Homo sapiens: one gene and its partners. The protein of the gene in region 1 interacts with the protein of each later gene in a biochemical or structural test. Each region holds a gene or a part of one and is shown on either strand. Other genes may lie near its edges.

Region 1 (4,715 bases):
ACCTACTCTATCACTCTTCTTTCTCTGCATTGCTTCCTTCTCAGCTTGTAAATCCTTTTCTTTCTGTTTCCCTTATTTATATGCTCTTAGATGGTAACAGATCTAAGACTAGAACCTAAGAAGGTCAGTGACCCTAAACTTTGTGTGTATGTAGAAGAATGTGTCCTTGAAATAATTATTTGCTTAACTTTAATAGAAGATGCATAAATAATAATAAAGTACTTACATAACAGGAAAAAACACATGTATTGAAATAAGGGTGTACAATAGAAAGCATACCCTAAAGACTTCTTCTATTAAATATTTAGCTCTAAACCTTGACCATGATTAAGATTCTGGAAATGACAAAGGAGCAGCTCTCCTAAAGCAAGAGTCTCTGTTTTCCAACTATACTAATCCATCCTATCCAATATTACCAAATAAATTTTCCAAAGTGACCTTCTGATCCTGTTTCTTTGTCTTTAAAAAGGGTTAGGTAACACTATTAGTGTGTGGCAGATCTCAGATTCCACCTGAGAATCTCCACCCTTTTCCCCATTTTAATATGAAGCCCCATTTTTAATATGGCCTATGCCTTTCCACAAATCAGATGCTCAATATATAATTTTTAAATTAAAAGATTCAAGAAATTTGGGACTATTTTTTAAGAATAGAAGGAAGAAACATGATAGCTACCCTCAGATATTTGAAAAGGATATCAAACAAAAGGCGGATTTGGTAATTTATACAACTCCAGAGAGTAATAAATAGGAATTACAACATGGCAGTGCTTTGTTTAATAGAGTTAAAGCAGTGTTGAAGTTACACTCTATGAGAATTTTTAAAACCGTGTTTTCATTTTGGTGGCATTGTAAAAAAAGAAAAGGCATATTCTACATCATCTAAATGATCTCTCCATAGTTCTGTATACTTGCCTCAAGCCTTCTGTGTTTGAGGCTGCATTTGTTTATGATCAAACTGTTACCAAATGACCACTAAAAGGAACAAGGTTACATTTTTTAATGCAGTATACATACTCAGACTGAGGTCACTGGGTACATCTCAAAAATTCAGAGGATTATTTTGCTCCAAAAGAGATCTGAACATTAATCCTGTGTTAAGAAACACAGGAATAAAAAAGAAAATAAGTAGATTGTCTTGTGAGAATGTTTTGTGTATGTATGTCTGAAAATTCTAAAAGCAGACTGGCCAATGCGCCTGTGGTGGTTGACATTAAATAACAAAACTTAAACCCAAAAGTCTGTACTTCGCAAGAACCTCAAACTTTAAAGTGCAATGAACTGAAAATTTAAAAATGGAATATGCTATGAATGAATGAATGAACATAAAAAATGGAATGTTCAACTGTGGCCTAAGCCATCAACGATTCAATGCTGTACTCAATAAATTAGCTGCACAAATACCTGTTGAATAAATGAATGCACAACAATCTGTTACAGGACATAGTATAATAGTTAGGTGCCTGAGTCATGGTTAAGCGTTGAAGAAATTTTTTGAACCACTGAAATAAGTCAACTTAAATTATTCAAGAAAATATCCCTTCATCCATTCACAGTGAAGGCTTTGACTACTGGTTTGACACTATAACCATTTAAATATTTTAACTATGTTAGCTACAAAGGCAGGCAATATCCAACTTTCCTCTGCTAACAAGTTAAAAGACATTTAATGAGATTCTGGACACAAAGGACATGGAAATGTAGGCTTTCTTAATTTCCCCCTCCTTTAACATCCCAAATAAATAGCTTTGAGAACATTTTTCTTCCTTTAGTATTACCACTATGGAAAATTATTTTAGAATAACATGTCTATACATAAACCAGTATTTAGTCTGCAAAGGCCAGATGTTTATGGAAAAAAAACCAAGTAAAGGAAAAGCATCAGTAACTATTCTGCCACTATTATTTACTCACTGGTGGTGAATAGCCTTCGTCAGATTATCACAAAGAAGGCTTGAGCGATTCTAAACAATGTTGAAAACAACTTAACCAATACTATAATATTATGAATATATGGATAGTTTCTACTTAATTAAGCCCTTACTTTGTGCCAAGAGCTGTTCTGAGTGTTTCATATGAGTTGATGTATCATTTCATTCTCATAACAATCCTATAAGGCAATTATTCTTATCATCCCAATAAAGCAATTTGTGTAAGATCACACAGTAGAGCTAAACGATCTAGAAAAATGTGTGATCTTAACACATATTTAGTAGAGAAAAGGATCATCTTTTTCTTGAGATGAAAACCCTAACCCATAGAAGAAATACTCAACTTCCCAAAAGTCATGACAAGAACAGCTTGCAGAATGACTACACTTGGTAGAAAACTATAGAATATGAATTCAAATGACTTGCAACAAAAACTCATGGCCCATTAATTACTGGTCAAGAGTTCTGTGTATAGTAAGATAATATTCTACAAGAAGACCATCAAATATGCTACAATAAGACATATTTGACTCATGTAATCAGGGAACTCCATTCACATGGCCAAGTAGGGCAAAACGTTTTCTTCTAGGAAACTGATATATAGACACTAGAAGAGAGAGGGAGTTTTTTTTACTTTTTTTTTTTTTATATTACAAACTGTATGGATGCAGGTATGGGGATGCTAGCCGTCCTCTTCCACACCATACAGACAGCCTGTCAGTGGCAGAGTAAGGCCAGCATGCAAATAGAGCAAAGGTATACAAGCCAAGTAATATCAAGACAAAAGTCAGGGATTATTACACTCTGAGATCATTTGAGACTCTAGATTTGTCTCTTAAACCAAAATTAGATTGTGTTAGCCAATGACTACATTTTCCCCTCTTAAACTAGATTGAGTTGTATTTTGCTACTTGCAATAAGAAGAATCCTAATATACTTATCAAATTGCCAGTGTTCCAAATTTAAAACTTTAATGATGATAAAGTTCAAGAAAATGACACTCTAAAATACAACTAGGTCAAACTTTCTAGAAGATAAACAGGCAATTACATTGAAAGCTTTAAAATGGATACTTTTTGACCCTGTAATTCTACTTCTTCTAATTTATTATTAAGAAAGAACCATGAGGCCGGGCATGGTGGCTCACGCCTGTAATCTCAGCACTTTTCTCACTTTTTTGAGAATAGGTTTGATAAAAAGGCAGTAATGGTAAAACAGACTATATCTGAAATCTGGAGAGTATTAAGAGCCATATATTATGTTAAGTACCCAACATTAATATTATCTAATTTAACCATCACCACAAGCCTACAAAATTCTGATACTCTTCCTCACTATTTAGATGGGAAAAAATGTAGATGTAAATTTTTTAAAAGCAGGTTAAAAACAGTACTCAGTCCCTAATCCTACAGTTATTAACATACAGATGTAACACAGAATTGAGAAATAGTAGACAATGGTCTCTACATAGTGAAAAAGCAGGTGATTTTTATTTCTTTGTGCACCTGTGTAGTTTTTAAATTTTTTCCTCCAAAATTTTAAAATTTCATTAACATTAAAATAGTTTAGCCAGATCAAATGATTGTAAACACACTCAGGGAACTCCTATTTAAATGGTATTCTATTATAAAGCAAAGAGAATAATCAATGCTCTTCTATTATAAAGCAAAGAAAATAAACCCCAACCTTACTATAAAGTAATAGAATTTAAATATCTATATCAAAAAAAGTCAAAGGAGATTCTTTAACTTTCTTCTTACCAATCAGTGAATCTCAGACAGGGAACTAAAGAATTAAAACATTCTTTTTAATTTTTTTTTTTTTTTTTTGGAGACAGCATCTCACACTGTCATCAGGCTGGAGTGCAGTGGCGCGATCTTGGCTCACTGCAACCTCTGCTTCCCAGGTTCAAGCGATTCTCCTGCCTCAGCCTCCGAGTAGCTGGGATTACAGGCATGTGCCACCACATCCTGCTATTTTTTTTTTTTTTTTTTTGTATTTTTAGTAGAGACGGGGTTTCTCCAAGTTGGTCAGGCTTGTCTTGAACTCCTGACCTCAGGTGATTCACCTGCCCCGGCCTCCCAAAATGGTGGGATTACAGGCAGGAGCCACCGTGCCGGGCCGACAATATTTCTAAAGAAACCTTTTAAAAACCTGCATTCTCTTTGTTCATCCAATTATTCAATCATTGTCTCATTTGTTAATTCAAATACTTATTAAGAGCTCACTGTGTACACCACGTACCAGTATTCACACCACAGATTTCTTTTTTAATTTTTTTGAAACACAGTCTTGCTCTGTCACCCAGGCTGGAGTGCAATGGGGCGATCTTGGCTCACCGCAACCTCCGCCTCCCAGGTTCAAGCAATTCTCCTGCCTCAGCCTCCTAAGTAGCTGGGATTACAGGCACCCGCCACCACGCCTGGCTAATTTTGGTATTTTTAGTAGAGATGGGGTTTCACCATGTTGGCCAGGCTGGTCTCGAACTCCTGACCTCAGGTGATCCACCCACCTCGGCATCCCAAAGTACTGGGATTACAAGCATGAGCCACCGCGCCCAGCCCACAAATTTCAAATTCAGCCTACTTGGGATTTGGTCCACTGAAACATATCCAGTTTTATAATGGAAAGGGGGAGGGTAGAAATCATTTTAAAGAAATTTGCTTAGCATCTGAATTTACAAGACTCTTAAGAACAGAAACGTATCCCAACCCTCAAAGACTTCAACTTTCGCCTTTAAACCTTATTTTTAACCATAGTATTTTTCAGCTGGAAAAACAAATCC
Region 2 (3,470 bases), on another chromosome or scaffold:
TGGTTAGTTGCAGTTAAAGGCATGCTTTGCACCTGTTACCAGGCAGGCTCCTATTTCAACAGGGATGTGGACCCTGCTCCCCATTTTAATATCTTAACCTAACTTACTAACTGTTCAGTCTACTTAGAGATGTTTGCCACACGTAGTTGAAACTGAAGCCAGAAATGCCTCATCACCATTATAAATTGAGGGGAGTAGGAAGTGGAGGGTGCATGTGGGCCTTCAATATGCTGTAGTTGCTTAGCACAGAAAATTGCAAGGGTAGTGGGGTCTCAGCCGCATGTTGAACCATTCCATCCCTGTACTGAGGTTTCTATTGGAAACTGTAATTGTAGTTTAATGGCTCACTTCTGGCCTTTCACAAGGCATCTATCCTCATGAATAAACTGTGTTTGTGTGTAGGGGGATTGAGGGCCAGGTTATAGTAGCAGTTGAAATGTTTAGTAGGGCCAACTTTATGGTTCTATTTATGAATGCTTCCAGACCAACCACCCCAAAACTTTTGACCTGAGGAATAAATTAGTTTTGAATTAAGTTCTTCTGGTGAGAACTGCCTTGCTTAAAGAATTAAAAACCCTTGACTTTCCTCAAAGACCATGTTGACAGAGACTGCTAACATGAAGCTTAAGTTTTCTGAATTATGTTCAAATCTTTAGAGGAATGAGGATTCATCTTCCACTCTTACGTGTCAGGGGTTGGACCTGCGGAGTCTGCTTTTTCTAAAAATTGACTGCAACCACTTTGAAATCAGTTCTTTCCCTCAAGAAGGTTCCCCAGGTTGAAGGTAGGCCCTGATGATCTGCACGTGGTATGTAGGACGCTGATGGGGTTTAAGTTCAGGGAAACTGCTATGTGACTTCTCACAAACATCCCACCTGATGCTACCCCAATCCTGAGAACTTAGACGGACAGCTCCCCTTCAAAGCCTTGTTTACTTAGTCCATACCTTGCATCCAGTTCGCTAGTGCAAACTTAATGTGTAAGCAATGTAGATAGAATGGAGCTTTTTTGCATATAAGAAAAAAAAACCTAAAAGTCAGAAAAGCCAGTTTTTTTTTTATTTGTAAAGCTCTGCCATAAACTTCTAGCGTGTGCCAATGGTCACCTGCCACACTCGCACCAGGTTGTCCGTGTAGCCAGCAAACAGAGTCTGCAGGGAAGAAATGACAGTGACAGGTCAGGCTGGCATAAATTCTGCAGTCTCACTAGATTCAGCCCAAGTGGCTTTTTTTGAGATCCGTCCACCTTGCTCCATTGTCTAGGCTGGAGTGCAGGGGTGCGATCCTGGCTCACTACAGCCTTAAGCCCCTGCAGTTCAAGAGATCCTCCCACCTCAGCCTCCAGTAGGCATGTGCCACAACGCCGGGTAGACTGTAAGAAACCGCTCTCATTTCAACAGCCAGCTTGTAAGTGGTGGTTATGTATTCCTTGAGGAAGAAACAGCTGGTGATAAGGCTCCAGACATTTGAAAACTGGTCAGATTAATTAAGGTATTAATTGAAGGCTGACAGCCACTGCGTTCCACATCAGTCTTCCCTCTGATGCAGAAACACATTCACTGGCATGGCAAACGAGGGCATCCTCATCAACCTGGCTTGTCATTTCACTTTATGCCAAGGACACTGCTCTTGTGTCTGACAGACTAGATATACTAACAGAATGAGAGGGAGAAAATTAACTGGAAGCAGAATCACCTGAGAGGACAGACCCACTTACCTGGCCATCAGCAGACCAGGCCAGGGAGGTGCACTGGGGTGGTTCTGCCTTGCTGCTGGTACTGATAACTTCTTGCTTCAGTTCATCTACAATGATCTTTCCCTCTAAATCCTGGGGAACAGGGCAAAAGCAACCTTAAGACTTACCAATCAAGAGAGTCTCCTCTTAAAAGCCCCTCAAGATTCTCAAGTTAAAAAGGGATGATTTTGCTCCCTGGGGTCCATGTATCAATGCCTACATGCATTTTCAGTTGCCACTAGTGGAAGGATGGTTTGCTACTGACATCTAGTAGAAGCTGGAAATGCTGCTAAACATCCTGGAATGTACAGGACTGCACACCACAACAGAGTTACTCAGACCAAAATGTCATTACGTGGAGGCTGAGAAAGCTTAGCTCCCAGGTGGGAGTCAGATGGCATATATAATAACCAAAACATTGCCAGGGCTCAGAGTGCAGCCAGGTACCCAGTCAATTGTAACCCACACTCACCCAGATCTTGATGCTGGGGCCTGTGGCAGCACACAGCCAGTAGCGGTTAGGGCTGAAGCACAGGGCGTTGATGATGTCCCCACCATCTAGCGTGTAAAGGTGTTTGCCTTCGTTGAGATCCCATAACATGGCCTGGCCATCCTGGACACAGGTAAGGTAAATCAGGACACTGTGACCTCTTCCAGATGTTAATTCTGCCCATCTCAAGATTCTGTCAGAATCAATTCTTACCTTTCCTCCATTACCCCAGGCTTCTTTGAAAGCTAATGACTCAAGTACCAATATTTATCTCTGTATACCTTTCCTTTAACGTAAGACCTTACCAACCCCATCAAAAAACCCCTCCCAACTTACATAAATCACTCCAATCATTTCTGAAAACCAGGATCCCAATCTCATCAACTGCTTCAAGAAACCAACTTTAGGCTGGGTGCGGTGGCTCATGCCTGTAATCCCAGCACTTTGGGAAGCCGAGGTGGGCGGATCACCTGAGGTCAGGAGTTCAAGACCAGCCTGGCCAACATGGTAAAATCCTCTCTACTAACATACAAAAATTACCCAGGAGTGATGGCGGGTGCCTGTAATCCTAGCTACTCGGGAGGCTGAGATGGGAGAATTGCTTGAACCCGGGAGATGGTTGCAGTGAGCCGAGATCGCGCCACTGCACTCCAGCCTTGGCAGCCGAGTGAGACTCCGTCTCAAAAAAAAAACAAAAAACAAACAAACAAAAAAACAACAAAAAAAACCCACAGGCTTATAGAAAATCATCTTTTTCTTCCAGATAGTATGCCTTAACTGTCATTTGCTGAAAGTAATCTTTGGAAACATATTCTCAGATTGCCATTATCTCATTATCCTCCTAAAACCATCTTGGCTAATGTTTGCCATTTTACGTTAGAGACGCTGGCTAAGTGCTCCTTCCATGACGCTGTCTTCCACTGAGTAGGAGACGCCTTGTCCCCAAATACCTTGCCTCCAGAAGCACAGAGGGATCCATCTGGAGAGACAGTCACCGTGTTCAGATAGCCTGTGTGGCCAATGTGGTTGGTCTTCAGCTTGCAGTTAGCCAGGTTCCATACCTGCATAGACGTGCGGTTGACAGGTGAACATCCTAGCTCTTGATGAGCTAGGGTCAGGCCCAACAAAAAAGGGCTTGGCACTTCTGGATACGGTAGCCATTTCTCATTCAGTAACATGTCCTGGCCACTTCACGTTAGATTATAACACATATCCAATGCAGTGTGCTGACTTACAAGGGACATCA
Region 3 (3,500 bases), on another chromosome or scaffold:
TTGCATTGCTGAGAGAGACTTAACTTTTTTTAGATTTAACATTCCTAACCACGGTATTCAATAAATAAATGTTAAGTGCCTAAAATGTACACGTGTTGTTCTAGGAGCTGGGTGTACAGTAGTGAACCAAAAGACAAAGTCCACGCCCTGCACAAAATAGGAATTACCTCCATGTAGAGGCGAGCCTTCAAGAGCTGAAGTGGCTTGCTCTGGTCATAAAACTAGAGGGCAGCAAGCTCTGAAGGCAGATTGCTGGGACTCCACACCCCTCTAACCATAACTCTGCTGTGTTCCTCTTGACCCTGATGACAGGTACCCGCAAGATGGAGTACAAGGGCAGCAGCTGGCATGAGACCTGCTTCATCTGCCACCGCTGCCAGCAGCCAATTGGAACCAAGAGTTTCATCCCCAAAGACAATCAGAATTTCTGTGTGCCCTGCTATGAGAAACAACATGCCATGCAGTGCGTTCAGTGCAAAAAGGTATCTCAGATGCCCCCTTGGCCCTTGCACGTTCTGGCTGGTTTGCCTCCATGGTCCATGTCTGTCAGTTCTCTTTCCAAAACCAAGGATACCTGTGATACTTAAGTGGCGTGGGAGCTGTGCCTGTCCTGCCTTACATTCTGAGCATTTATCCATCGGGTCTGGGTGTCCATCCTTCTTTCAAAGACATCAACATTGTTGAGCTCTGTGATCAAATCGTTTAACCCTGCCTTCTTCTAGACCATTTCTAAATATGTTCTTATGTTGATAACCTGAGGTTAGAGGGAAGGGGAGCCACCATCCCAAAGCTGTCTTGTTCAGCTTCTCTCCATGAATAAAACAAGAAAACAACTGCAAACTTGAGAGGGAGAGAAAGATGGAAGGAAGAGGGAGGAGAGGAAGGGAGGAGAGAGAGACGGATGTGAGAAGAAAAGTAAAGGAGAAAAGTCTGCCTCCATGGATATGGGACAGATCATTTATTAAATGTATCTACTCTGGCCGGGCATGGAGGCTCATGCCTGTAATCCCAGCACTGTGGGAGGCCAAGGCTGGTGGATCACCTGTGGGAGGCCAAGGCTGGTGGATTACCTTAGGTCAGGAGTTCAAGACCAGCCTGGGCAACATGATGAAACTCCATCTCTACTAAAAATACACAACTTAGCTGGGTGTGGTGGCACACGCCTGTAGTCCCAGCTACTCAGGAGACTGAGGCAGGAGAATCACTTGAACCCGGGAGGTGGAGGTTGCAGTGAGCCAAGATCCCACCACTGCACTCCAGCCTGGGCGACTGAGCGAGACTCCATCTCAAAAAATTAAAAAAATAAATAAATAAACTTATCTACTCGATAATGTGCTATTCCAGTCATGGCTCTGTTAGGGTTAAAGAAAGAAAGGGAACTGCATATCTGTAGGAAGCCATCTCTCTGCCCAGTTGCCCCCCGACCTGCACCCTTCAGGGTGTAGCTTAGTTTTCTGCTGTGCCCTCTGACTCTTAGACACACGCAATTCTTATTATGCTATAGCTTCCAGCGTCTCTGTCCTGTTAGGATTTGCATCAGCCTGTTGAGTGGCACCCTCCCACTGCTCACTCGCCCTGGGCAGCGCCAGCTGTGGAACTCATCACAGGTTCTGTTCGCTCTCCTCCTGTTATTGACTCTGCTCACCCAGCTTCTGCTGTTTTGCCCTTGGGGCCTCTACCCTTGCGTCTGGGCCATGGAGAAACATCCCCAATGCTGCTACCTGTACCTGGCTGGCCTGGGCAAGAATATCCCCACCTTGCCCACACCTTTTCTAAGTGCTGAGTATTCTTACCAATTTCCATTCAGTCTTTCTCTCATTTCCTTTTTTTTTTTCTTTTTTTGAGACAGAATCTCACACTGTCGCCCAGGCTGGAGTGCAGTGGCTCGATCTTGGCTCACTGCAACCTCCGCCTCTTGGGTTCGAGCAATTTCTCCTGCCTCAGCCTCCCAAGTAGCTGAGATTACAGGCGTGCGTCACCATGCCCAGCCGGTTTTTTTTGTATTTTTAGTACAGACGGGGTTTCAACATGTTGGCCAGGCTGATCTCGGAACTCCTGACCTCAGGTGATCGACCTGCCTCCACCTCCCAAAGTGCTGGGATTACAGGCGTGAGCCACCATGCCTGGCCCCATTTGTTCTTTACTGTTATTTTAAATTTTATTTCTCTTTATTTCCTCTCCTTTTATGCTTCTGTTTTTTTCTTTTTTTGAGACAGTTTCACTCTGCCACCTGGGCTGTAGTACAGTGGCATGATCTCAACTCACTGCAACCTCTGCTTTCTGGGTTCAAGTGATTCTCCTGCCTCAGCCTCCTGAGCAGCTGGGATTACAGGCAGGTGCCACCACCAAACCCACCTAATTTTTTTTTTTTTTTTTTGTAGTAGAGACGGTGTCTCACTTTGTTGGCCAGACTGGTCACAAACTCCTGTTTTTTTCTTTATTCTTAGATTGAGCTCTCATTCCTGCTTTTATTTTAGGAACCCTCTTCCCTGTTCTCTCCCCTTTTTATTTTTATTTTGGTTTGTTCTTCTCATCAAGACCTAACGGAAGTTCATCTGAGTTGCTCTTCCTCTGTCATCTTTCCAATGTGTGCTTTATTCATTTGCAGAAATGAAAGCAACACATCCTTCTGGGATGCATGCTTTTTGTGTGCATGTTCATTAAATACACAAAAACATTCATGCCAGAAGCATCCATTCCTCGACATGAACTTGGCCCTCTCAGGCACTGGGGATCTGATGCTGGACAAGATGCAGACACTTAACTGTAGTCTAGGTGGAAGTACACTCCAGTGTCAAACCCGTCAGTAGTTACTGAGCAGTGTGCTATGGAGGAGAAGAGCAGAGTGTGGAATGGAGGGACCTCAACTAATCTGAGGAGTTGGGGGCCAGGGTGGTGTTGAGGGAAGGAGTCTCTGAGAAAGTCATGCTATGCTCAGAGGCATTGAGTTAGCTGATGTGGGTGGGAAGCATGGAATCCGGAGCAAGGGAGGACTGAGGACACATGTTGCAGGCAGAGATGTCTTACACACACAGGCTACTGCATTCACATGGATACGTTGCAACCAAGCGTGTTTGGTGTTCATTCTCTTGTGCAGTGGGGTGGGTTATACTAAGATGCTTCATGATTTATGGTTTAATGAAAAGAATACAAGATAGAAGGGAGTCCAGAATTCTAGTTCCTGCTTCGTCATTAACCAGCTATGAATTCTTTGGCAAGTCACTTTTTAATTTCTCTGAGTCTCAGTTTACTCATCCATAAAATTAAGATAATATCTTTCCTACTTCACAAGCTTTATGTAAAGACCAAAGGAGTTACTGCATGATACTGAAATGTTCAAAAAATAAAAAGCAAAAAAGTGTGATTGTGAGGTGCTTGCACTCCATCTTCCACAGCCTTCGTTTGCCAAGCTGAGGCCACCTACACTCCTCTCTGATAGCTTACTCAGCTCCACCAAGCACTCATTTTTAAATAGAATGTGAGATGCAACATTTGGAGAA
Region 4 (4,416 bases), about 44 Mb from region 1:
ATGTCATACTCAACTCAGTCAGGTGCCAGGGCCCAGGGGCATCGGAGCAACCTGCCAGCTCCAGAAACGCTGCTTAGCTGAGGCCCATCCCTTAAGGAACAGAAGCAGCCTGTCCAGCCCCTCCCCACCTGCAGTTGCCTCCTAACTTGGGGCACTCCCCTGGGGGCCAACTGGGGCCCTGGAGCCCTGGGTCAGCCTTTCCCTGCCAGTTTGCTTAGCTCTGCCGGGCAGGGTCAGGTGGGGGCCCAGGTGCCTGATCTGCGGCGCTCCCAAGCAGGAACAGCCATACCTCAGGGCACCTGCCACAAGCCAAGGCCCAGCGCCCAGGGCTGGCCAGTAGCACAAAAACTACTTACCCAGGTAAGTGCCTACCAGAGCGGTGGACAGCAGAGGGAAGAAACACATGCTTTAGGTTAGTGAGCCACACGCAGCCATCTGCAGGCCCCGCAGGTGGGGACAGCGCAACAGGCTGCACGGGCAAATGGCCGGGTTAGAGCGCTGGGGCCCCGTGCTGTGGGCAGGCAGGGCCCTCACTCGAGCTCAGCTCATGCCTACCCAGGCTGGACAGAGACCCCACCTCGTGTGCGCCAGTGCCCCCGGGAGCCGTCTTCACCCAGCTGGCCCCTCTCCAGCGCCCAGGTCCTGGCCGCTACACGTCAGGACAGGCGCTTCCTCTGTGGCTGACCCCTCTGAGCCCAGGGCCCCGCCCAGCCAGGCGGCAAGGGGTGATGCTCCCTCACAAGCACTGCATGGCTGGGACTCACGTGTGAGGTGTGGAAAATTCAGTGGGAACAAATAAGCTTTTATGTAACTTGCTGGTTAACCGCTTTTTACAAAACAAAACAAAAAGCTCGAAGATGCCTGCTGACAAGGACTCCCTCCTGTTTCTACCAGCTCTTATGGGGCTGTTCCTGGGACGCCCTGCCATTAGGAACAGACAAGTAAAGCCAGCCCAGAGTGGGCTGGCCCTGGGCCCAGGACTAGGCAATGGGGGCAGCCCCAATACCAGATGGCTGGGAGGGTGCCCCAGGAAAGGAGGGCTGGGGCTGGGGCCGAGACACAGACACCGCCAAGGGATGTCGGGAGGAAGCTGCAAGGACAGGCCAGGGGTGCGTGTCCAGACAGGTGGAGATGGGGGGCCCGGCACCCGATCTCAGGCCCACCCTGCGCTGCAGCCGGCGTGCTGACCCCACAGGACGTGCCTGCCAGGACACCCAGCAGCCTCGAGAGAATGCCCCAAGGGGACAGGGTTGGCTGGGCTGGGCAGCCACTACCCATATCCACCTCCAGGTCGCCAAACCGGCCCTGCTGCCCTGGCCAGCACCGTCAGTGAAAGCCGCCTGGCGAAGGGGCTCCAGGCACATCCACACTGGCAGGCCCAGCACTTGCACACCCGGGCCCCACACACCTGGCCTCCTCATGCTAGGCTTGGTCCTATCTGCTCTTCCCCAAGGGGCCTGGGGTCCCGCAGCCCCTGCTCCAAGCAACCGGCACAGAGCACCTGAGCCAGTCCTCCGACAGAAGGCACCCATGTGTACAAGCTCAGTTGCCCACGGCCCACACAGACACCCCCGACCACCCTCCCCACTGTCCCGCCTGGCAGGCGCACGGAAGGATTGCAGGCACAGCACGGGCGGCCCCACGAGCTGAGGCTGGCAGCATGCGGGCAGTCACAGCGCGATGGCAGACAGCGCAGGCAGGGGCGCCAGGGCCACACGTGCCAGGACAGTCCACTGACAGGAGGCGGGGCCAGGGGGCCGAGGGCCAGATGCCTGGGCTCGGGGGGTCTTCACCAAGGGACCAGTGATGTCGGGAGGAATGTGGGGAACTGGGCTGTGGCCTGGCTCACGTGGACTGCCCCAAGCATGGGCCCTGGGCCGCCCGCCGCGGGGACACAGAGCAGCACAGCACAGGCATCACGGGCGGGGCCGGCGCAGCGCCCGCCCGCGGCTCCAGGCCTTACCCCTACTGGGCATCAAGAGGCGCTTCTTCATGTTGCCTGGCAGCGCCGGGGTGGGAGAGAGGGAGAGAAGACAGCGTCAGCACGCACGGCGGGTGCCCGGGCGGGGACGGGCCGGACTCACCGGGCGGGGAGGGCCACACTCACCGGGCGGGGGGGCCACTCACCGTCCACCCCGTTGTGCTGCTCGTAGCTGCGCTTGCCCAGGATGGTGGGGGAGCCGTTGTTGATGACGGGGGCCACCTTGGCGGGCGTCAGGCTGCTGAGCACGCTGGACACGCTTTTCACGGGGTCAGGCTTGGGGGGGCGGGGGTGGGTCTCTGCCGGGAATGACACAGGCAGAACGAGTTGCCTCTGCCCAGCAGGGGAGGGGCAGGCAGGCCCAGGCTCCAGCCCTCATGGTTCCGGGATACCCCCAGGAACTAAGCCCCATGCGGCCCCCACCCGAGGCCCCATCCTGACTGGGCTGGAAGTGGGGAGGTCACCACAGAACCAGAAGCCCAGAAGCCCTCGGCAAGGCGTGTGCCCGGGCCAGTCCCGCACCCCAGGGCTTCCAGAGAGCAGGGAGACCACCTGGCGGGGGCCAGGCCCCTCAGCCCCGGGACAACAGGATCCATACACAGGCCCGTGAGCACAGCACGCCTATTAAACAGCCCCCACGTCCAGGCCCCCGGAGCTGCTGGTGGAGGGCTGGCTGCTCGTCAGACAGCGAACCAACCATCCAGCCAGCCTGGCCAGGGACACAGCTGCTGAGGACCAGCCCTGACACCAGCCACCTCTTCCCACAGGACAGGGGCCACAACCCCAAACAGGGAGCAATGCCAAAGCCACTTGAATCTCAGAGCACACTTGGCTCATGACTCTGGAATGTCCTTCTCAGGACAGTCACCCTGTGTCGGGAGGGCAGATGCACAAGCCCACTCGAGCCCAGCAAATGGAGGAGGCCCCCCACCGCCACCACAAATGTCTGGCCCAGCCACCAAGCTGCTTCCAGCTGGGCCAGGGTAGCCGGCTGAGGTTCTCGGGTGTCCTCAGATGCTCAAAGGCAAAGGAACCCCCTGCCGCCTGAGGCTGCTCCTCCCCCTGCCGAGGGCGTGCAGAGGCCTGAGTGCTGCCCCTGTGGAGTGGGCGTGGCTCAGGAAGTATACTCCCTGCAGGCAGCAGGTACGACGCTGCCTTAATGGTATTACAGGCAGGGGTGTGCACCACCTAAACCCCAGACCCTCAGGCCCCAGGGACGATCAGAACACAGGGAACAGGGTAGCGAGACTGGCAGGGAAGCCCCCGGGTGTGCCTTGAGGAGGCTGGCCCCGCAGAAGACAGGGCGGCCGCTACTCCGCACTGGGCCCCATCACGACCCCAGGAGCAGGGAGCAGCCTGGGTCCCAGTGGGTCTGCCTGAGCCTGGCACGGTGCAGAGTACCCCAAAAGGACAGTTCCAGGCCCTGGGGGGCTGTCCAGGAGCTCCCAGCTAGAGAAGGCTGGGAGCACCAGTGCATGAGCTTGGGTGAGAAGCTGCCTGCAGGCAGCATTGGGAGCCCCCCAGCACGCCTGGCTGCTCACCAAGATACCGAAGCACGGCTTCCAGCGGCTTGCGTACCGCCTGCTTCAGCACCAGCGGGCTCTGGGAGGCTTCGGGCAGCCGCGCCGTGCCTGCGGGGTACCACACGGTGTGAGGGGTGGGGCACCCCCAGGGGAGCACGGGACCCTGCCTGCGCCTTGACCTGGGAGCCCTCACTGGGCTCGGCCATGTCAGCACCGAGGAGGACGTGGGGCTCCCTGAGATCAGAACTCCCAGTGGGGCTACAGGCTGGGCCCCAAGGTTGCTGCTCTCTCCCCACCACCCGCAGGAACAGAGTAAGCGGGGCGTTGGGGTGACTCACACTCGGCCTTGATGGCCGCGCTGTTGATGGGCAGGTAGGGGTGCCGCGCAGCGTGCCACGGGCGCAGGATCTCACGGCACAGGCGCCGGGCGATCCGCGTCAGCTTCGTCGTGTGCAGATAGAAAGCCTGCCTGGTCTTCATGGCAAACTTGGGGCTCCCGCTGCTCCGGGCTGGGAGGCCGTGGGGACTCTGCGGAAGGGGGCGCAACCGCCCCAACACAGCGCCATGACCGGGGGCCGAGGACCCGCGTGGCCGACAGGCTCATGGCAGGCAGGGCGGGTGTCCCCCCCCTTACCATGTTACTGCGGTTTGGTCCTGGCCTCTCTCCATCTAACCGGGTTGGCATTTTCAAGCCACCATATTTCTTCCAATATGTCCAACAAGATGCGCAGAGACGACACTGCATGTTAGGGGGACCCCAAGAATACCACTGGTAAGACTGTGTGGCTACGGACAACAAAGTTGGAAATAGACGGATTCTTAAGCAGAACCAGCGATGTCAGAGTATTCCCCGCCACCCCCACGCCGGCCGCCCCCACCCGCCAGGCACCCCCACACGTTCCCCGAGGCTCT
Region 5 (4,172 bases), on another chromosome or scaffold:
ATACCTCTTCCCATTGATGTCCTACCCCCCTTCAAGGCTGAGGTCATTGTCACCTCCTCCCTCAAATCTTTCTTGATTTCTCCCGGCTAACTCTTACAGCTCAGATCTACACATTCCAGTCTTTTTTTGTTTTTGAGACAGGCTCTCACTCTGTCGCCCAGGCTGCAGTGCAGTGGCACGATCATGGCTCACTACGGCCTCGAACTCCTGGGCTCAGGTGATCCTCCTGCCTTAGCCTCCTGCATATTTGGGACTACAGGCGTGAGCCACCACACCTGACTAATTATTTTTTATTTATTTATTTATTTTAGAGACAAGGTCTTGCCATGTTGTCCGGGCTGGTCTCGAACTCCTGGGCTCAAAGGATCTTCCTGCCTTGGTCTCCCAAAGTGCTGGGATTATAGGTGTCAGCTGCGGCGCCTGGACCTTTCCTGTCTTTTATGAAACCTGAATGGGATAGGCTGGTAGTTTCACCACACCCATTTGACAGATGAGGACATTGAGGGCTCAAGGACGAGGCCACTTTCTAAGGTGTGAGAGACCAGCTAGTCTTGGTCTCCTGCTCTGGGAATCTCACTCCTCTGGCTCAGGGTTTCCAGAAGCCATAAAACCTTAGCTGTAAATCCCAGCCCCCATCACTCTTGGTGTTAGCTGTATTTCAGTGTTCTTAAGAACTCAGCAATGCAGCCTAGCTAACCTACACCACAGGTCAAATAAACAGATGTCAAGGTGCATGTGTGTCCTGCACAATGGACTGTGTGCTCTGTGCACTAAAAGTTAAGTGTCTGGGGTGGGGGCTGGGTGCGGTGGCTCACGCCTGCAATCCCAGCACTTTGAGAGGCCGAGGAGGGTGGATCACCTGAGGTCAGGAGTTCAAGACCGGTATGGGCAATATGGCAACACCCCATCTCTACTAAAAATACAAAACATAGCCGGGTGTAAAGGTGTGCCTGTAGTCCCAGCTGCTCCAGAGGCTGAAGCAGGAGAATTGCTTGAACCCAGGAGGCAGAGGTTGTAGTGAACGGGAGATGGCACCACTGCACTGCCTGGGCAACATAGGGAGGCTACATCTCCAGAAAAAAAAAAAAAAGTTAAGTGTCTGGGTTTGCAGAGTACTAGACGGTGAGGAGTGAGGTGGGGAGGAAGAACCCCAAATTTCTTGCCCTATTTGCCCCCATCAAATTCCTCAACATGGTCAACATTGTTTCTAGAACATGTCCTGGGATTGTGGGAAGGGAGACCACTCATTTGCCCCTCCCTAAAGCTTCTGGGCTTCCAGACCCAGCTACTTTGCGGAACTCAGCAACCCAGGCATCTCTGAGTCTCCGCCCAAGACCGGGATGCCCCCCAGGGGAGGTGTCCGGGAGCCCAGCCTTTCCCAGATAGCACGCTCCGCCAGTCCCAAGGGTGCGCAACCGGCTGCACTCCCCTCCCGCGACCCAGGGCCCGGGAGCAGCCCCCATGACCCACACGCACGTCTGCAGCAGCCCCGCTCACGCCCCGGCGAGCCTCAACCCAGGCGTCCTGCCCCTGCTCTGACCCCGGGTGGCCCCTACCCCTGGCGACCCCTCACGCACACAGCCTCTCCCCCACCCCCACCCGCGCACGCACACATGCAGATAACAGCCCCGACCCCCGGCCAGAGCCGCAGAGTCCCTGGGCCACCCCGGCCGCTCGCTGCGCTGCGCCGCACCGCGCTGTCCTCCCGGAGCCGGACCGGGGCCACCGCGCCCGCTCTGCTCCGACACCGCGCCCCCTGGACAGCCGCCCTCTCCTCCAGGCCCGTGGGGCTGGCCCTGCACCGCCGAGCTTCCCGGGATGAGGGCCCCCGGTGTGGTCACCCGGCGCGCCCCAGGTCGCTGAGGGACCCCGGCCAGGCGCGGAGATGGGGGTGCACGGTGAGTACTCGCGGGCTGGGCGCTCCCGCCCGCCCGGGTCCCTGTTTGAGCGGGGATTTAGCGCCCCGGCTATTGGCCAGGAGGTGGCTGGGTTCAAGGACCGGCGACTTGTCAAGGACCCCGGAAGGGGGAGGGGGGTGGGGCAGCCTCCACGTGCCAGCGGGGACTTGGGGGAGTCCTTGGGGATGGCAAAAACCTGACCTGTGAAGGGGACACAGTTTGGGGGTTGAGGGGAAGAAGGTTTGGGGGTTCTGCTGTGCCAGTGGAGAGGAAGCTGATAAGCTGATAACCTGGGCGCTGGAGCCACCACTTATCTGCCAGAGGGGAAGCCTCTGTCACACCAGGATTGAAGTTTGGCCGGAGAAGTGGATGCTGGTAGCTGGGGGTGGGGTGTGCACACGGCAGCAGGATTGAATGAAGGCCAGGGAGGCAGCACCTGAGTGCTTGCATGGTTGGGGACAGGAAGGACGAGCTGGGGCAGAGACGTGGGGATGAAGGAAGCTGTCCTTCCACAGCCACCCTTCTCCCTCCCCGCCTGACTCTCAGCCTGGCTATCTGTTCTAGAATGTCCTGCCTGGCTGTGGCTTCTCCTGTCCCTGCTGTCGCTCCCTCTGGGCCTCCCAGTCCTGGGCGCCCCACCACGCCTCATCTGTGACAGCCGAGTCCTGGAGAGGTACCTCTTGGAGGCCAAGGAGGCCGAGAATATCACGGTGAGACCCCTTCCCCAGCACATTCCACAGAACTCACGCTCAGGGCTTCAGGGAACTCCTCCCAGATCCAGGAACCTGGCACTTGGTTTGGGGTGGAGTTGGGAAGCTAGACACTGCCCCCCTACATAAGAATAAGTCTGGTGGCCCCAAACCATACCTGGAAACTAGGCAAGGAGCAAAGCCAGCAGATCCTACGGCCTGTGGGCCAGGGCCAGAGCCTTCAGGGACCCTTGACTCCCCGGGCTGTGTGCATTTCAGACGGGCTGTGCTGAACACTGCAGCTTGAATGAGAATATCACTGTCCCAGACACCAAAGTTAATTTCTATGCCTGGAAGAGGATGGAGGTGAGTTCCTTTTTTTTTTTTTTTCCTTTCTTTTGGAGAATCTCATTTGCGAGCCTGATTTTGGATGAAAGGGAGAATGATCGAGGGAAAGGTAAAATGGAGCAGCAGAGATGAGGCTGCCTGGGCGCAGAGGCTCACGTCTATAATCCCAGGCTGAGATGGCCGAGATGGGAGAATTGCTTGAGCCCTGGAGTTTCAGACCAACCTAGGCAGCATAGTGAGATCCCCCATCTCTACAAACATTTAAAAAAATTAGTCAGGTGAGGTGGTGCATGGTGGTAGTCCCAGATATTTGGAAGGCTGAGGCGGGAGGATCGCTTGAGCCCAGGAATTTGAGGCTGCAGTGAGCTGTGATCACACCACTGCACTCCAGCCTCAGTGACAGAGTGAGGCCCTGTCTCAAAAAAGAAAAGAAAAAAGAAAAATAATGAGGGCTGTATGGAATACATTCATTATTCATTCACTCACTCACTCACTCACTCATTCATTCATTCATTCATTCAACAAGTCTTATTGCATACCTTCTGTTTGCTCAGCTTGGTGCTTGGGGCTGCTGAGGGGCAGGAGGGAGAGGGTGACATGGGTCAGCTGACTCCCAGAGTCCACTCCCTGTAGGTCGGGCAGCAGGCCGTAGAAGTCTGGCAGGGCCTGGCCCTGCTGTCGGAAGCTGTCCTGCGGGGCCAGGCCCTGTTGGTCAACTCTTCCCAGCCGTGGGAGCCCCTGCAGCTGCATGTGGATAAAGCCGTCAGTGGCCTTCGCAGCCTCACCACTCTGCTTCGGGCTCTGGGAGCCCAGGTGAGTAGGAGCGGACACTTCTGCTTGCCCTTTCTGTAAGAAGGGGAGAAGGGTCTTGCTAAGGAGTACAGGAACTGTCCGTATTCCTTCCCTTTCTGTGGCACTGCAGCGACCTCCTGTTTTCTCCTTGGCAGAAGGAAGCCATCTCCCCTCCAGATGCGGCCTCAGCTGCTCCACTCCGAACAATCACTGCTGACACTTTCCGCAAACTCTTCCGAGTCTACTCCAATTTCCTCCGGGGAAAGCTGAAGCTGTACACAGGGGAGGCCTGCAGGACAGGGGACAGATGACCAGGTGTGTCCACCTGGGCATATCCACCACCTCCCTCACCAACATTGCTTGTGCCACACCCTCCCCCGCCACTCCTGAACCCCGTCGAGGGGCTCTCAGCTCAGCGCCAGCCTGTCCCATGGACACTCCAGTG
Region 6 (4,715 bases), on another chromosome or scaffold:
TCCTCCCCACCTCTTCCGTTGTGACTTCTTTTTCTTGTCTTGCTGCATTTGCTTGGAATTCCAATCAACGGTTGAACAGAATCAATGAAAGCAGCTACTGTGTCTCATTCTTATATTTTTCTTAATTAAAATAAGTCATCTTAAGTAATACCTGCTCATGGTTTAAAAAAAAAATCAAACAGCAAAGGACAATCCAAAAATGAAGCAAGTCTCGACCAGCTGGTGCTGTCAGCAGTCCTCAAGCTCCTCTGGTCACTGCCACTGTGGAAAACACTTGTGTGTCTTGAGTGACAATTGCAGTGGAAGCTTTTACACAGCACTCTCGCCTCACCGTGGCCAGGCGCTGTCTAGGTGCTGGGCACGTGTTAATGCGTGGAACTCACCACAGAAAGGGCCTGCCGATTTCCAGCTATGGGACGGCAGGGACGTGGCGGCCCTCTCCTCCCTCTCCTGAGTTTTGCTGAACTGACTGAGATCACTAACTTAGCTGTAGGCTCAAAGTCGAACCTGGCCTCAGCCCTTTCTTCTCGCGCCTTCTCTGCTGCTCCCCTGCTCTATGCCTGCCCGGCTGCAGACGCAGCCCCGGGTGGGAGAGACTGCGAGAGCCCACAGGAAGAGCAGTGAGGTGGGGCAAGATAAACCCTCCAGTGAGACTCGGAGTGGTGGCGCTTCTGCACGTCCATCCCATCCAGGGCTGGGGTCTTGTGGGCACCAAATCCTGTCTTCATCGCCAACAATCACTGAGGGTCCAGGCACTCCTAGCCCAGGAGCTCCAGCCTGGATCTCACAGCCTCTCCCTGCAAAGGACTCTGGAGCTTCCCAGCCAATTAGCTGGGATGAGAGACTAAGTCTATTACGTGCACCGCCCACCCGTGGAGCTGGAAACAGACTCGCATCTGCAGCCTGAGGCGGGGATCAGGGATCAAAGCCGACCTCCAAATCTGTGATCTCACTCCCTCCCAGCTCCATGGATCGCCCGGACCAGGGCGCCACGGCCACAGCCACGGGCCTCTTTGGAGAGGACTCCAATCCCCGCAGGAACAGGCCGACTTCCAGGACACTGAACAGGGAGCTACTTACATTTTGGTGGCGAAGATGGATAATCATCTTTGAAAAGCATCCGTAGTTTAAACAAGCCTCCTTCCCACGGAGTCTGTGGGGAAATAAACCGTGGTGAGATGGGCTGCTTGCCTGCCGCAGGCCGGCCCAGGAGGAAGGGGATCGCTTCTAGGACACAACCTCCAGGACTGCGAGGACACCGGGGGCCAGAGGCCCGACAGAGGCGGCTCCCATACCAGCCTGAAGCCTGGACCAGCCCCACCAAGGGGGCGGTCAGGACCTCTGCCATGCCCAGAGAGTGAGTCGGAAAGGCCCTCCTGGAAAGGAGAGGAGGAGACGGGGGTCGGGGGCTGGGCTGGGGGGCAACGAGTGCCGCACACTGGGGCCGGCAGCGCCAAGAGCACACCCGTGCCCTCACCCCAGGGTGTTCTGCAAGCCCCTGCCCCAGGTCCCGCCTGGATGAGGCGCCTTTGCCACCCCACAACCCGACACCACTCCCGTCTTCCTTGGGGCCGCGCGCGCACCTGCCTCGCCGTAATGTGAAGGGCAAGGGACGTTCTCAGCAGAGCCTCAGACAAGTGACAAATCCAAGCCACATCCTGTCTCGGGCAAAGCTGAGTCCTGCTGGGACTGCTCAGCTCAGGGGGCCGGAGCTGCTGTGAGTTTCAGAGCGAAACCCAGAGGCTGGCATGGGCCGGAGGGAACAAGGCCTCGGGCAGGACCAACACCTCAGGGATCTCTCCTTCCTTCAGAGTCCACGAGCATGAACCTTATGTGCAAGCCGGCCTGGAGTCCCTGGCCAAGCACTTCATGTGAGCCGGGCAAAGAGGACAGGCACATGGGCCGCCCTGCTTGCCACAGACACACGGGGCCCCAAGCAGGCATCCTAGGTGGCTGCCGCCAGTCCCTGTGCCCCAGGAGGTTCTCCAGTAGACGGTTTTAGGCCGGGGTGGCTCTCCTGCAAACCCAGCTCCCGCGACCTGAGCCACACCTGGAAGGACACAGCAGAATCCCGGGTTCCAGCACGCAAAGGCTGCCCGCCCCTCAGGCCTGCTCCCAACACACATCAGAGCCCCTTCCCCTCTGCCACAGCTCAGCCCTGTGCCCGGCCAGGCCCAGCCTGCTTCCTTCTCAACCAGAAATGCCCTCGGTAGGGACACAGCTGTCACCCCAACCTTGCCAGCACCACCTTCTGAGCTCAAGTCCTCACGGGGCGGGGGCCAGGCCACAGCTGGGGATCTGAGCTGTTGACCGCGGCCTGTGACAAGGGTGGCCGTCACGGACGGCAGGGATCTGAGCGGAGTATCCCCATGGCACTGCCGCACGCATCTGCTGAGCCCCGACAGGCAGGAGGCCGGCAGCGCCCCTTACCCCTTTCTTTCCTGGAATGGCGCACTCCCAGTTCATGAGGTTCATCGTGCCATCGGGATTTTTTGTTGGGACAGCCACGAAACCCTGAGAGAAAAGAAAACAACCACAAAAGCATATCAGCGTGGCGGCATCTAGTTTGAGCAAAACCACCAAGAACCGGCCTGCGAGTCCCACCGGCCCAGCCCAGGCACGCGACCAGCTCCCTCCCAGTAGGGAGGGCGCGGTTTCAGCCGAGGGAGCCTGTCCGCGGCACTGCACACAGAAATGAAGCCCTCCTTACAAATGGGTGGTCTTTCCTCCATGCTTTCCTCTCCTGGGCGAGTCTGCTGAGGGCGATCCCCGACATGTTCAAAGTCCCTGGAACACAGGAGGCAGAGCACGGGGTCAGGAGAGGCGAGCGGGCTCCTGCCACCCCAGCACGCGCACGTGGCCCGCAGCAGGCAGGCTTGCTCCTAACATACGGTGGCCTGGCCCAGCAGGGACTCTCTTCTTGCAAGCCGTCGTCCGACCCCGGGGGTCTACCAGGGGAGGCCTTGTGAGCGGCGCCCAGATCACCGGGAGGCGGGGGCAGGTAGGACCCCTCCCCATGGCCCCAACCCAGCCCTGGTCTGCGACACATGCTGCGGCCTCTGCTCGAAGGTGAGGAGACAGATGTTCAGAGGCTGGGCCGCTGCGGCTGGGGGGTAGCTGCCACCCTGTGGTGGCTGACATGGCAGGGTCCTCACCATACCATCAGGTGGGGACTAGGCAGGGCTGGGGCCCCAGATGGATGTGGGGTGCTGGGTCCCTGCCTTAGTATCAGGCGCTCAGAACTGAGACTCAGGCTGGGCCAGGGGACACCTGTTATTCTTTTTTTTTTTTTTTTTTTTTTTTTTTGAGACAGAGTCTCATTCTATTGCTCAGGCTGGAATGCAGTGGCACGATCTCGGCTCACTGCAACCTCCGCCTCCTGAGTTCAAGCAATTCTCCTGCCTCAGCCTCCCGAGTAGCTGAGACTACAGGCGTGTGCCACCACGCCCAGCTAATTTTTGTATTTTTAGTAGAGATAGGGTTTCACCATGTTGAAGACAGAGCAGAACAAGTACCACAGGGCAGAGGCTCAGCCTCACTGAGAGAGGAGCCCTCCACGGGGACACCCTTCCCAGACCGTGCAGCCACTACCACGTCCCTGTGGCTTCAGGGGACAGACGGGTCCTGCAGGGCAGGGCAGGAGCATGGGGTAGGGGACCAGGTCCCTGATCAGAGGCAGCGGCACACACGCCAGATTCCAGCTCCACACATCTGCACGGGACCTCGGGGGCTTGGCACCTTCGCCTTTGCGTTCTCGGCGGGAGCCTGTCGGCCAGCACTGTCACTGGGGACACCAGGCAGACAGGGCCAGCAGCCTCAATGCCACCCTCAACTGTCACCCTACTGGTGGCCACCTTTACCCACGAAAAACAGCGCTCAAGATACAAAACTTGCCCAAGAATTCAAACCTAAGTGTGTGCTGGTTTTCAAAGTCCATGGGAACACTGAAGCTACTACCCCCAAGTCTGATATCTCAACACCAAACAAGAGCCACCTCTACAAAGCTGGGGGACTGAGCCAGGTCTTCTAAGCTGTGGGGGGCCGTCCCTACTACGGCTTGGGCTGTCCTAGAATAGCCACAAGGGCCCTGGGGACCTGGATGGCTCCCACACCTGTGGAGGCCCACGAACCTCACACACCTCGCAGCCGCAGAAAGGGGCCAGGTCAGCAGCTCCACCTGCGTCGGAGCCGCCGCAGCCTCACCTGGCACTCGTTAGGGAGACAAGGCCCAGTCCCCGGCAGACCCACGGACGAAGGAGCTCTGAGAGGCCCGCACTCAGGTTCTGGGTGGCACGATGACTTCCCCAGTCAGCAGAGCAGAAATCGGGGGTGGGGTTGGGATCAAAGAAGCCAAGGCAGGTCCAGTGTCGCCAGGGCACCAGGCTTCTGAAGCTGCTAGAGCCGCCTGCCCTGCAGGTGAATTTGGCTCCTTTTCACCAAACACAGATCCTCAGGGCAGCCTGAGAAAAAGCAGGCGAAGGAACCTGGGTCCTCCAGTCAGCAGGCGCTGGCGTCACAGCGAGAGGGTGACAGGGGCCAGCCGGGCACTGGCCTCCAGGTCCACGACTAAGTCCAAGACAGGCAGCCCGGGCTGGAGGCAGCCCCAGACCGGGCCCCACCGGGATGTCCTTCCCCACGCCCTCCTCACATGATGCAGAGGAGCCCGCAGGCCGCCCGCCCTCTGGACCGTTTGCCCTTCCCCGTGCCCTCCTCTA
Region 7 (4,715 bases), on another chromosome or scaffold:
CCTGTAGTCCCAGCTACTCGGGAGGCTGAGGCAGGAGAAAGGCATGAACCCAGGAGGCTGAGCTTGCAGTGAGCCGAGATCGCACCACTGCGCTCCAGCCTGGGCGACAGAGCGAGACTCTGTCTCAAAAAAAACAAAACACAAAACAAAACAAAAAAAACCTATTATTACAGTAAACTCTTATTTTGGTGAAATAATGTGTTTTAGGCCTAGAGAAAGGATGCTATCATCTTTTCTGGAGGATAGAGTCAAGTGATTTTTATTTCCTTTTTGCTTTTCTGCATTTTCTACAATGAACTTGTGTTGCCTTTTTTTTCTTCCTATACTTGCTTCCTGAATGACTGTGTTATAATCATTCTAATCTAATAATCTAATAAGGTCAGTCACAGTGGCTCACGCCTGTAATCCTAGTGCTTTTGGGAAGCTGAGGAGGGAGGATCCCTTAAGCTCAAGGCTGCAGTGAACTAGGATTGTGCCACTGCACTACAGCCTGGGCAACAGAGCAAGAACCCATCTCTAAAACAAAACCAAAATCAAAAAACAACAAAAAATGCTTTTCCTCTCAGAAGTCCCCTCTCTCACTAGAGAGAGAGCTGTTTTCCTTTCTTTCTTTTTCTTTTGCCTGTTAAACCTCTGCTCCTAAAAACAAAAACAAACCAAAAAAAATACCTAAATCGGTTACTGTTAATGGTTTTTCAAGTTTCCAAAATAAGAAAATAAGAAGAGTGTGCATCTGGCTTCCTAGGTATGTTGCTCTTCCCCAAACTCCTGAGGGCACCATAGGGGACAGAGCCTCTGTTCCCTGGAGCTCTCCAGGCCCCTGTGCCAGGCACTGCCCTGAGCCTACACAGGGTGGTTTTCAGAGAAGGGGTGGGAGCATCTGAGTGGTCCCAGAAGTCCCCAAAGCTGCTACCTGGATGGCTCCTAAGCACACTTCTCCAGGTGACTCACAGGGGCCAAGAAGTGCCCTCAACATGTGTTTTTTGTATTTTTATCTATTTATTTATTTAGAGACCAGGTTATGAGACTGGCTAATTTTTGTATTTTTGGTAGAGACAGGGTTTTGCCGTGTTGCCCAAGCTGGTCTTGAACTCCTGGGCTTAAGTGATCTGCCCACCTCCACCTCCCAAAGTGCTGGGATTACACACATGAGCCACCATGACCGGCCCTCTCAATATTCATTTTTGCCTCATTTACCTCCATGTTGTATTCAAATTTTTCATCTTCTCCTACTTGTCCTGAAAATTTTAAAGGCATTTTTGTCTGGTTTTCATAAATTTGATATATACCTTCATAGAAGCTGGAAACAGACACAGACATAAAATGAAATAAAAATCACCTGTAATCCTGCTGTACAGGAAAAAAAATATGGTTACCTTTTTGGTTTTGGTAAGTCTTATTTACATGTACGAATATATAATTTTTTTTTTTTTTTTTTTTTTTTTGAGACAGAGTCGCGCTCTGTCACCCAGGCTGGAGTGCAGTGGTGCGATCTCGACTGAACACACTCTCCACTTCAGGTTCAAGCCATCCTACCACCTCAGCCTCCCGAGTAGCTGGGATTACAGGCACACACTCCCACGCCTGGCTAATTTTTGTATTTTTTGTAGATATGGGGTTTCGTCATGTTGCCCAAGCTGGTCTCAAACTCCAGAGCTCAACCAATCCATCTGCCTGGGCCTCCCAAAGTGCTGGGATTACAGGCGTGAGCCACCATGCCCAACCAGATATATAAATTTTAAAAATAAACTGCAATATAACCAATAAATTTGTATACAGCTTTTTTTGGTTTATATATTTCTAATGTCACTAAATTTCTTTTCAGCTTCATTTCTAATAGGTGAATAATATTATACCACATATAATTTAAGCTATACAACCCCTTACTGAATTATTTATCCATCATAGGACGTGGTATTTTTGTATTTTGTGTATGTGTGTTTTGCCATTATAAAGAAGGCACTGAGAAACATTTTGGAATATGAATCTTTTGTTTTGCTTAAAGACAAGTCTCAATCTGTCACCCAGGCTGGAGTGCAATGGTGTGATCATGGTTCACTGCAGCCTCTACCTCCCTGGGCTCAGGTGATCCTCCTACCTCAGCCCCCCAAGTAGCTAGGACTACAGGCATGCACTACCAAGCCTGGCTACTTTTTAATTTTTCTTTTATAGAGACAGAGTTTTGCCATGATGCCCAGATTGGTCTGGAACTCCTGGGTTCAAGCAATCTGCCTGCCTTGGACTCCCAAAGTACTGGAACTACAGGTGTGAGCCACCAGGAATGTGAAACTTTGACTAAATCTTTTTGTTTTGTTTTGTTTTGTTTTTTTGAGATGGAGTTTTCACTCTTGTTACCCAGGCTGGAGTGCAGTGGTGTGATCTCGGCTCACTGCAACCTCCACCTCCTGGGTTCAAGCAATTCTGCTGCCTCAGCCTCCCAAGTAGCTGGGATTACAAGCACACACCACCACGCCCAGCTAATCTTTTTGGATTTTTAGTAGAGATGAGGTTTCACCACATTGGTCAGGCTGGTCTTGAACTCCTGATCTCAGGTGATCCGCCTGCCTCAGCTTCTCAAGTGCTGGGATTACAGGCGTGAGTCACTGCGACCAGACTGTCTTTTTGTTGTTGTCGTGGTTGAGACAGAGTCTTAGTCTGTTGCCTAGGCTGGACTGCAGTGGCGTGATCTCTGCTCACTGCAACCTCCGCCTCCTGGGTTCAAGCGTTTCTCTTGCCTCAGCCTCTAGAGTAGCTGGGATTACAGGAATCCACCATCACACCCACATAATTTTTGTATTTTTAGTAGAGACGAGGTTTCACCACGTTGGCCAGGGTGGTCTCGAACTCCTGACCTCAAGTGATCTGTCCACTGCGGCCTCCCAAAGTGCTGGGAGTACAGGTGTACGCCACCATGCCCGGCCTACATCTTTGACCAAAAAAAAAAAAAAAAATTATTGGTCAAAATGTGTGCTTTGAAGGCTCTACATAGATATTGATAAGCTTCCCTTTAGAAACAGTATATACATTTATCTGCCTATCAGCAGTATATGAGTATGTGCAACATAAAAAGTTTAAGGTTTACTAACATTTTAAAAATTAATGGTTAAAAATCATTTCTATGAAGGAAAAAGGGCGGTAGTACAGAAAACACTGGGTGCTTAATATTCCACACAAAGGGCCAGGTGCGGTGGCTCACAGCTGTAATCCCAGCACTTTGGGAGGCTAAGGAGGGTGGATCACAAGGTCAGGAGTTCGAAACCAGCCTGACCAACATGGTGAAATCCCATCTCTACTAAAAATACAAAAAATTAGCCAGGTGTGGTGGCACATGCCTGTAAGCCCAGCTACTCAGGAGGCTGAGGCAGGAGAATCGCTTGAACCCAGGAGGCAGAGGTTGCAGTGAGCCGAGATCACGCCATTGCACTCCAGCCTGGGCAACAGAGTAAGACTCCGTCTAAAAAAAAAAAAAAAAACTTCCACACACAGGACCTAAAATATCGGAAGCATGGGGGTCGACAAGAGGGTGCATATCTCAGCTGTCTGAAAGTTATCATTTTGCTTCCTTTTGGTACCCAACCAACACTGACCATGTACCTCCTTAGGAACAGTGACTTGGGGTGCTGGGAAACAGCCAGGCATAGGCCCTGCTCTTGTAGTGTACAGAGTCCCATACTTCAACCTCAGGGTACTTGCAAGCAGACACTAGGGAGGTGATAATCACCACCAGCACCTCTGTTTCCTACACTCACTGAGGGTTAGCTGCTGCACATACATTATCCCGGGAGGTAACGGTCACTATGGAAGGAAATTACAGGGACAAGTAGCCCTGGGTTCAGTACCTCACTCTGCCCCTTGCAAGTCTGTGACTTTAGATAAATCGCTCAGTCTCCACATTCATAAAATGGGGACAATGACAGCACCTAGGGTTACTGAGAAGATGAAGTGAGCCAATGCACAGTAAACGCTAAGTTGAATGACTTAGGGCCTCATGGACTTTCTGGGTGGCTCAGATTTTTTATTGATTTGCATGACAAGAATGCTCAAAAAATGTTTACTACTATAATTTGTGTCACTGGCTGTTCTATACATTAGGACACTGAAATTGGTAGGAATAGAAGTCACATGCTCAAGGTCACTCAGAAGGGCACCCTCCATGAGACCACTCAGGGCTCTGCAGGCCAACCAGCCCAGCAACGAACAGGCGCCATGGTGATGGAGTCAGACACACCGCAGGGGACTCATGCACGGATTCTTGGTGCGCTTCCTGAGATCTAAGCTCACCTCCTGGTGCTTTTGACATCAAAGAAAAAGCCAGGAAAGGCAACTTCATGGACTAGAGCAAACCCTTCAACAGCTTCCCTGTCCTGGGGCAGCCTGCGCTTCTGAACCCCCATTCCTGCTGAGCACCTTTGCTTCCCTGCAACGTGAAGGTTCCCTTTCTCCACCAAGGCTGAGAAACTGTTCCAGGCAAGACACTGAGGAGACATAACAAAGCTGGATTGTGGGTCAATGTGGGGGGATGCCACAAAGAACATCCCCAGGACAACCAGCATGCCTGAGTGTGGACTGCCTGTTAGATCATAGTATTTGTTATGGACTGAATTGTTCTCTCTCCCCCATTCATATGCTGAAGTTCTAACCACCAGGACCTGAGAATGTAATCATATTTGAAGATAATGTCTTTAAAGAGGTAATTAAGTTAAAATAAGATCTTT

Evidence for each region.
Region 2: the proteins of HIF1A (region 1) and RACK1 form a complex in vitro, tested with the Homo sapiens proteins (2 studies listed by BioGRID).
Region 3: the proteins of HIF1A (region 1) and FHL2 form a complex in vitro, tested with the Homo sapiens proteins (2 studies listed by BioGRID).
Region 4: the proteins of HIF1A (region 1) and MTA1 form a complex in vitro, tested with the Homo sapiens proteins (2 studies listed by BioGRID).
Region 5: the proteins of HIF1A (region 1) and EPO form a complex in vitro, tested with the Homo sapiens proteins (2 studies listed by BioGRID).
Region 6: of the proteins of HIF1A (region 1) and UBE2I, one has a biochemical effect on the other in vitro, tested with the Homo sapiens proteins (2 studies listed by BioGRID).
Region 7: of the proteins of HIF1A (region 1) and USP20, one has a biochemical effect on the other in vitro, tested with the Homo sapiens proteins (2 studies listed by BioGRID and IntAct, with this or other methods).

Annotation. Positions count from the first base shown.
Region 1 is NC_000014.9:61,701,484-61,706,198, reverse strand, and holds part of HIF1A (hypoxia-inducible factor 1-alpha), read right to left. Parts: intron 1-4,715.
Region 2 is NC_000005.10:181,235,893-181,239,362, forward strand, and holds the end of RACK1 (small ribosomal subunit protein RACK1), read right to left. Parts: intron 3,286-3,470; coding exon 3,175-3,285; intron 2,348-3,174; coding exon 2,207-2,347; intron 1,828-2,206; coding exon 1,717-1,827; intron 1,151-1,716; coding exon 1,085-1,150; 3' UTR 1,005-1,084; downstream 1-1,004. UniProt on the Homo sapiens protein: Scaffolding protein involved in the recruitment, assembly and/or regulation of a variety of signaling molecules. Interacts with a wide variety of proteins and plays a role in many cellular processes.
Region 3 is NC_000002.12:105,364,552-105,368,051, reverse strand, and holds part of FHL2 (four and a half LIM domains protein 2), read left to right. Parts: intron 1-312; coding exon 313-482; intron 483-3,500. UniProt on the Homo sapiens protein: May function as a molecular transmitter linking various signaling pathways to transcriptional regulation. Negatively regulates the transcriptional repressor E4F1 and may function in cell growth.
Region 4 is NC_000014.9:105,464,290-105,468,705, reverse strand, and holds part of MTA1 (metastasis-associated protein MTA1), read right to left. Parts: intron 4,291-4,416; coding exon 4,139-4,290; intron 4,033-4,138; coding exon 3,843-4,032; intron 3,613-3,842; coding exon 3,523-3,612; intron 2,281-3,522; coding exon 2,128-2,280; intron 2,000-2,127; coding exon 1,964-1,999; intron 369-1,963; coding exon of another isoform or gene 357-368; intron 1-356. UniProt on the Homo sapiens protein: Transcriptional coregulator which can act as both a transcriptional corepressor and coactivator. Acts as a component of the histone deacetylase NuRD complex which participates in the remodeling of chromatin.
Region 5 is NC_000007.14:100,719,096-100,723,267, forward strand, and holds the start of EPO (erythropoietin precursor), read left to right. Parts: upstream 1-1,372; 5' UTR 1,373-1,885; coding exon 1,886-1,898; intron 1,899-2,462; coding exon 2,463-2,608; intron 2,609-2,866; coding exon 2,867-2,953; intron 2,954-3,568; coding exon 3,569-3,748; intron 3,749-3,882; coding exon 3,883-4,038; 3' UTR 4,039-4,172. UniProt on the Homo sapiens protein: Hormone involved in the regulation of erythrocyte proliferation and differentiation and the maintenance of a physiological level of circulating erythrocyte mass.
Region 6 is NC_000016.10:1,312,092-1,316,806, reverse strand, and holds part of UBE2I (SUMO-conjugating enzyme UBC9), read right to left. Parts: intron 4,461-4,715; exon of another isoform or gene 4,204-4,460; intron 2,788-4,203; 5' UTR 2,777-2,787; coding exon 2,711-2,776; intron 2,515-2,710; coding exon 2,431-2,514; intron 1,154-2,430; coding exon 1,081-1,153; intron 1-1,080. UniProt on the Homo sapiens protein: Accepts the ubiquitin-like proteins SUMO1, SUMO2, SUMO3, SUMO4 and SUMO1P1/SUMO5 from the UBLE1A-UBLE1B E1 complex and catalyzes their covalent attachment to other proteins with the help of an E3 ligase such as RANBP2, CBX4 and ZNF451.
Region 7 is NC_000009.12:129,841,354-129,846,068, reverse strand, and holds part of USP20 (ubiquitin carboxyl-terminal hydrolase 20), read right to left. Parts: intron 1-4,715.